2 separate regions of the Homo sapiens genome follow, and region 1 is linked to region 2. Evidence: fine-mapped QTL for protein levels in blood plasma. A gene starts in region 2. The other region holds a variant in brackets. All regions are shown on one strand. Distances are between the middles of the regions.

What was found. A credible set is the group of variants that fine-mapping cannot tell apart. PIP is the posterior inclusion probability: the model's chance that the variant is causal. Protein levels are from antibody-based Olink assays in UK Biobank. Linkage for the fine-mapping came from a reference panel and not from the study's own genotypes, which makes the PIPs less certain.
Region 1: its variant is the best candidate, but not a certain one, in a credible set for the plasma level of the CALCB protein (UK Biobank, PIP 0.68).

Annotation. Positions count from the first base shown.
Region 1 is chr11:15,103,475-15,106,382 of GRCh38, forward strand. No RefSeq gene overlaps it. Among named protein-coding and RNA genes, the nearest start is that of INSC, 10 kb to the right of the region's middle. The variant G/T (reference allele first, on the strand shown) is at 1,724.
Region 2 is chr11:15,072,163-15,075,048 of GRCh38, forward strand. It overlaps CALCB (calcitonin related polypeptide beta), which reads left to right and starts at 1,431. Exons shown (of 5, transcript NM_000728.4): 1 at 1,431-1,501; 2 at 2,548-2,642. The coding sequence starts at 2,557. RefSeq lists an enhancer at 2,333-2,834 and a silencer at 2,877-2,886.

The DNA.
Region 1 (2,908 bases), 31 kb after region 2:
TCAATCAGAAGAGAGCCTCCACAGACTCTTAACAAAACATCTCTACACCTACTGGCATCTGAACATAGGTGCTCTTCTCCCTTGGTTGCCATCGATTAACTTTCTGTGCCCCTAGCTGGAGCCATTTCTTTTATTTGTGCAGCAGATCCCTCCCCTTTCCACTACTCAAAGGCATTGCTTCAGCCGTTACCTATCTCTGCCTTCACCTCGTACTCCCCTCACTCCTTTGTTTCACCTTAGTGTTCTTCCTGCTCTTGCTCAAAGATACCAGCCATACTCTTGCCTTAGAATATTTGCTTTCACTGATTCCTTTTTTTGGGAAAGCTCTTCTCACAGATTTGCATTATACATAACTCTTTCACCTCCATTTACATTGACTAGGCTTAAAAAATATCTAACTGTAGGCTTTTTACAGGAGTTACCTAAAACATGAGAATACAGAATGGCAAAAGAAAAAGAATGAAAATACAATATACCATGCAAACACTAACTAAAATAACGGCAGTGTAATTAATATTAATTTGACTAAAATTGACCATAAGACAAAAAGCATTAAGAGATAATGAGGGCTATCTTAAGATAACAAAATGTAACATTTCCAGCAGAATGTAATAATTGTAAACGTATATGCACCTAATAACATAGCCTGACAGTATATAAAGCAGAAATACACAATTATATTGGGACATTTTAATTCATCTCTCCCTTAATTAACTCCTCCTATGGGAATGGTCTATTTATATCTTTCTCCATTTACTAGGTTGTGAGGACTCCAAGGTAGAGACCCTGCCTTAATCATGGTTGTATTCCTAGTGATGTGCATGGTGCCAGGCATAGGATTGGTCTTTATTCATTAATGTTTTCTGTACTAGACTTTCTCTGGCAGTAGTGAGGTCACCATGTTCTGAAGCATTCTTTAGGAATGTTCTTACTCCTAGAAGGGACTTAGTCTTCTGGATTGAAAGCTGTCTCTCTCTGCACCCCACCCTCACTACCCTATCCTCATGGGCCTTGGGCATAGATGGGTTCTGGAGGGCCGGCGTTTTAAATCTTGAGTAGTGTTAATTGTAGGGAATTTAAAACAGATCAATTTTTTATTTCCTACAAAGTCCTGGGCTGGGCATGGTTTCTATTAGAAGGATCCTTTATAATGGATCCTCAATAATCTAATACATCCTCAATAATTTATCTGAGGGTTTGCATTAAGGCTTTTCAATTATTCAAATTGTCAGATTTTTCATCTCTTGGTGAAACTTTTCTGGAAGCTTCTATTTCAGTTGTTGCAAGTGCTTGATAGCATAGCTTCTGCCTTTGGCAAGCCCTTAGCCAAGGGCTGTAAATCTGGGCCTATCAAAACCATTATGGCAATTTAGAGGCTTTCTGGAGTTCAGTGCTTCTATACAGAGATTTAAATGAAGCAGTGTCTGTGGGGACTTAGAGAGTTTGTAGGTCTTGGTTTTTCTCTGGGTTCTGCTTATAAACCATTCAGCTGGGCATCCTCCCCCATAGCTTCTCTATCATCTCTGCTCTGCTCTGCATCTGGAAGAGCTGATCTTCAGACCGTAGCACCTGGACTCTCTTGTTCCCTGATTGGGTTCAGCCAGCAGAGGAACTGGCTGGAGATCAGAGGAAGGAGCAGAGACAGGTTAGGGAATTTCTTCTCCATTTCTCTTTGGAGCTATGATTTTATGATCACAGTTTCTTCTGGGTAGCCTCTTCCAAG[G/T]CTGCCCTGGAACACCAGTAAGTGATTTACCTGCTTGTCCCTCTAGAATTGGTGGTGGTAATGGGTTCCCGCAGTTGTCAGTCCCCGCATGCTTCAAACCACTTGCTATTATTTTCTTAACCCTGAACATAAATAGGCCTTCATTAAATTGTTGTCCAAATTTCAGCCGTGTGGCCCTCTTTCCCACTGGGACCTGCCTGGAATATGAAAATGAACAGAATATGCATTTTGCCTGAAAGATGGCCCCTTTCCTTACCATCTGTCAGCTCAGAGTCCTCATCAGATACACCTGGAAGGACTAGGTCTCAGGTGCTGTGGACTTAGGTGTGGAGATTCAGAGAAGGAAAAGACACTTGTGCAAGGTCAAAGAGATAAAAGATAAGCCTCAAGCCCTCATCCGCTGTGCTGTGTGCTTTCTGCTGGTGGGCCTTCTCTTTTAGCTGTCTTCACTGAGGAGACATGCAGAGGGGGAACAAGTGAGGACTTGTAAATTGGTAAGCAAAAGTAGAAAGCTCAAGCCAGCTTAAGGGAAATAAGAAAAATCTTGTTAGAATGTACAGGTGTCTCATGGGACCCCCAGGACAGGGAAGCTGTTGGTTCTCATAAACCAGGGATGGGAATGTCCTTCTCAGGGAAAATTATTGGAAACCCAAGTCCTCTTTCTTTTAAGGACTGGGTTTTCTGTTGGTTCTCTTTCTCTTTTTGCACCTGGTTCCTGGATGATCTCTGCCCCTCTTTGCTCTGACACATGGGGCAGCTACTTCCTCTACCATGCTTGAACCATTCCATGGCAGTTTACTAATATCTATTGTGTGCTAGCTACTGCACTAGAAGACACGGTCTCTTTTCTCATGGTATGGAAGGTGGGAGAGACAGACAGTAATCAAACAAATAAACAATCAAGGGAATTTCAGAGAGTGATAAGTGGCATTCATAGGAGAATGACCAGGGATGGTTCTTTGTAGGTCAGGGAAGATTTCTCTCAAGAAGATGATGTGACTTGAGACCCTAGAAGAGAGAAGAATTATGTAGGGTTTCTTGAGTCAGAAGAAAAGGTTTGCATTTTTTTTTCTAAGTGCAGTAGTAAGAAGCAATTAAAGAGTTTTAGGTGAGGGAGGACAAGCTCGTATTTACGTTGTTAAAGGATGACTCAGGCTGCTGTGTGGTTAATGAAGGTTAGAAGGC
Region 2 (2,886 bases):
CTATTCTGCCAAAGCTGGGATCTTCTCCTGGAACCCGGGAGCAAGAAGAGCTGGCAGTGCCGACTCCCAGAACCCGGCTTTCCTTCAGAAAAGATGGATAGGCCGAGTTTGTGTGCGTGGACGTGCATGTGTCGGTGTGCATGTTTAGGGGACAGTATGTACCCCCAATTGCATAAAACACGCCTGTTTTTGGAAACAGAAACACACGGGGTTGCTTTCGGGTATGGGTGTGGTTAGTTTGGGTTCCTGCGCACGCTCCCTTTTCGGAGCAGCTGGTGAGGGCGCATCTGTTCCAGTGAGTGCTGGCTGTCTGATGGACTGTCTGTGAATGCAGAAGGCAGAGCGTGTGGTGGGGGTCCTGCCATGTGAGTGATGATGCGCGCACTGGCTGGTCTGTAGTCGCGAGTGGAACTTGTGTGAAAATTCTCAGGCTGACTCTCGCGCTGCAGCACCTGCTCCCCTCCGTGGGTGGCAGCTGGACCCCAGCGCGCTCAGCTCTCAGGCGCTTCAGCGAAGTGGGGTAGGGGTGTGGAACGAGAGAGATAGAGACCCGGGCATAGACCATCTCCGCCAGGCAGCTTGGCAAACAGGTGGCAGAGTTGCAGGGCAGCTGTGTAAGCCAACTTCGGCGCAGCAGTGGAGGGTCCTGGCTTGGCGTGGGGGATGCTGGACCCGCGGTCGAGGATTTGGGGATATAGGGGAAGAGGGAGGAGGTGGATGCTGAGCCTTGTATGCAGGCTATGTCAGTTTAGCCCTCTCCCCAACCTCTCTTCGGCTCCTGCCCGTCCCAGAGGAGTGAGGTGGAGAAGGGCTGGCTGCCAGACTGGCACCAAAACAGCCTTCTTTGGGTGCCCAGGTTGCCAGGGCTCGAGGGGTCGGAGGATATCCAGGGAAGCACCCCAGGTGGTCCAAAAAGATCAAATTTTGAGGACCCCTCCCTCCCCTTTTCCCTCCCCCCCCCTCCTTCCCTGCCGTGGGCTCTTTCAGCTGTGGTCCCTTTAGAACCCAGGACTACTACTGCTCAACCTCGCTGGGGGTTCGGGTGGCTGGATTCGGGTCCCTCACTGGCGTGACAGGAGGGAGTGCGAGGCAGGAATTTAGGAGCCAAGGAGGTGAGAGCAGCTCTGGCCCCTCACTGTAGGTGACGCCAAACTCTCCTCGACTTGCCCCGACTCTTAGTTGAAAAATCTCTGTCCTCTCCCAGGCTCTCCAGCTTCCCAAGCAATGACCTCAATGAAAAAAATGACAGCGGGGCGGACTGCCCCCGCTCCAGAGTACCAGTGCCGGCAGTGCGAGCTATGACGCAATCGGAGCTCGGTCGGTCCTTTGATTGGCTAGTCCTGGCCACTTTGGATTGGCCGCGCGGGCTGGTGGGGACCCCCCCCCTCCAGCTATCTCTGTAATAAGAGCGGGGTCTCCGCGGGGAAGGCGCCCACAGCAGGTGTGGTGTTCATCCCGGGTCGACCGGCCGCTCGCGCTGCCCTGAAACTCTAGTCGCCAGGTGAGGAACTTCCCATTCCCCATTCCGCTCACTCGAATAACCTGCTTCTTCGACTAGTTCATCCAGTTTGCTCCATCTGCCTGTCTGCCTCTCCGCCGCCATCTGGTCCTACCTTACAGCGGTGGTCCTAGCTCTCTTCCAGGCCCCGTAGAAGGCGAGCGGTTAGGGTTGTCCTGGCAGTTTCTCCTACCAGTGCGAGAGGAGCCCAAGCATCCCCATGGCTCAGCGTGGGCGCTGGAAGCGCAGCGAGCGGAGGTAGGCGGGTCTGCAGCCCTGGCGTTGGGGCCTGGCTGAGCGCAGGATTCTGCAGAGTTGGGTCCGGGAGCGCCCTGCGCCGTCTTTGTCCTTCGGGAGCATGTTTCGTTCCCGGGAGGTCGGAACCCTGAGCTTTCCTCTGAGGCGCCTCCCTGGTGAGCCTTCCCGGGATTCCGGTCCGGATCTAAGGCAGTGTTGTTAGCGGACTAGAACCCTGGGCGCTCACCTCGCGGAGCTGCTGCTCAGCATCTGCTGCTAAAACGCGCTCCGGCAGAGGGCTGGCTTTGCGGGCGAGTCCTGAGACACCCGTAACTGGCACGTTAAAAATTTTTCCCAGTTCCAAGACTGAGAAATGAGCGCTCCTTTCCAATCCACCCTTCCCACCTTCCCCTCGCATGCGTTGGCGCGAAGCCCAGCAGAGGAGAAGGCGAGAAGGGGAGAGCAGGTCTACAGCAAGGTGCGTCCACGCCTGGTTTAGGCATAAATCAGGGCAGAAGTGTCTGTTTGTGTGCACGGGCGCGTGTGGCTTCTCCCTGGCCTTCAACAAAACAGAACCAAAATTCATCCTTTCTCTCCACCCTTCCCCTAGGACACCTTTTTCCGCTCTATCAAGCCATTCACTCACTGCAATGTGTCTCTTGAGATTCACAGCAGCCCTTCCTGCAAATGAAGGGAACAGAGGCTCAGGCAGCTGAAGTAACGTGCCTAAGGTCACATGGCAGTTGTGGCAGAGGCAGGACTGGAACCTAGATCTGTGCTGGTGCAGTAGTAACGTCATCCTTCCTTTACAGAGAGGCGGCATGGGTTTCCGGAAGTTCTCCCCCTTCCTGGCTCTCAGTATCTTGGTCCTGTACCAGGCGGGCAGCCTCCAGGCGGCGCCATTCAGGTGAGACAGCCTGGAGCCAGAGGCGCCTTCTGCTCCCACTGCCCCTAGGACCAGACAGCTCTGTGCCTCTGAAGTCACGCGTGGCTCCTGGTGAATCAGTGCCCACAGGTGGACCCTGGCCTCATGCCCGTCCCCTGGGAGTCGCGGTGGCCACATCCCCAGGGGAAGAAGCAGAGACCAGGAAGCCTGGCTGCCTATCCTGGGGAGGGTCAGTCAGGGGCTCACAGCCTGCAAGGAGTTTGCT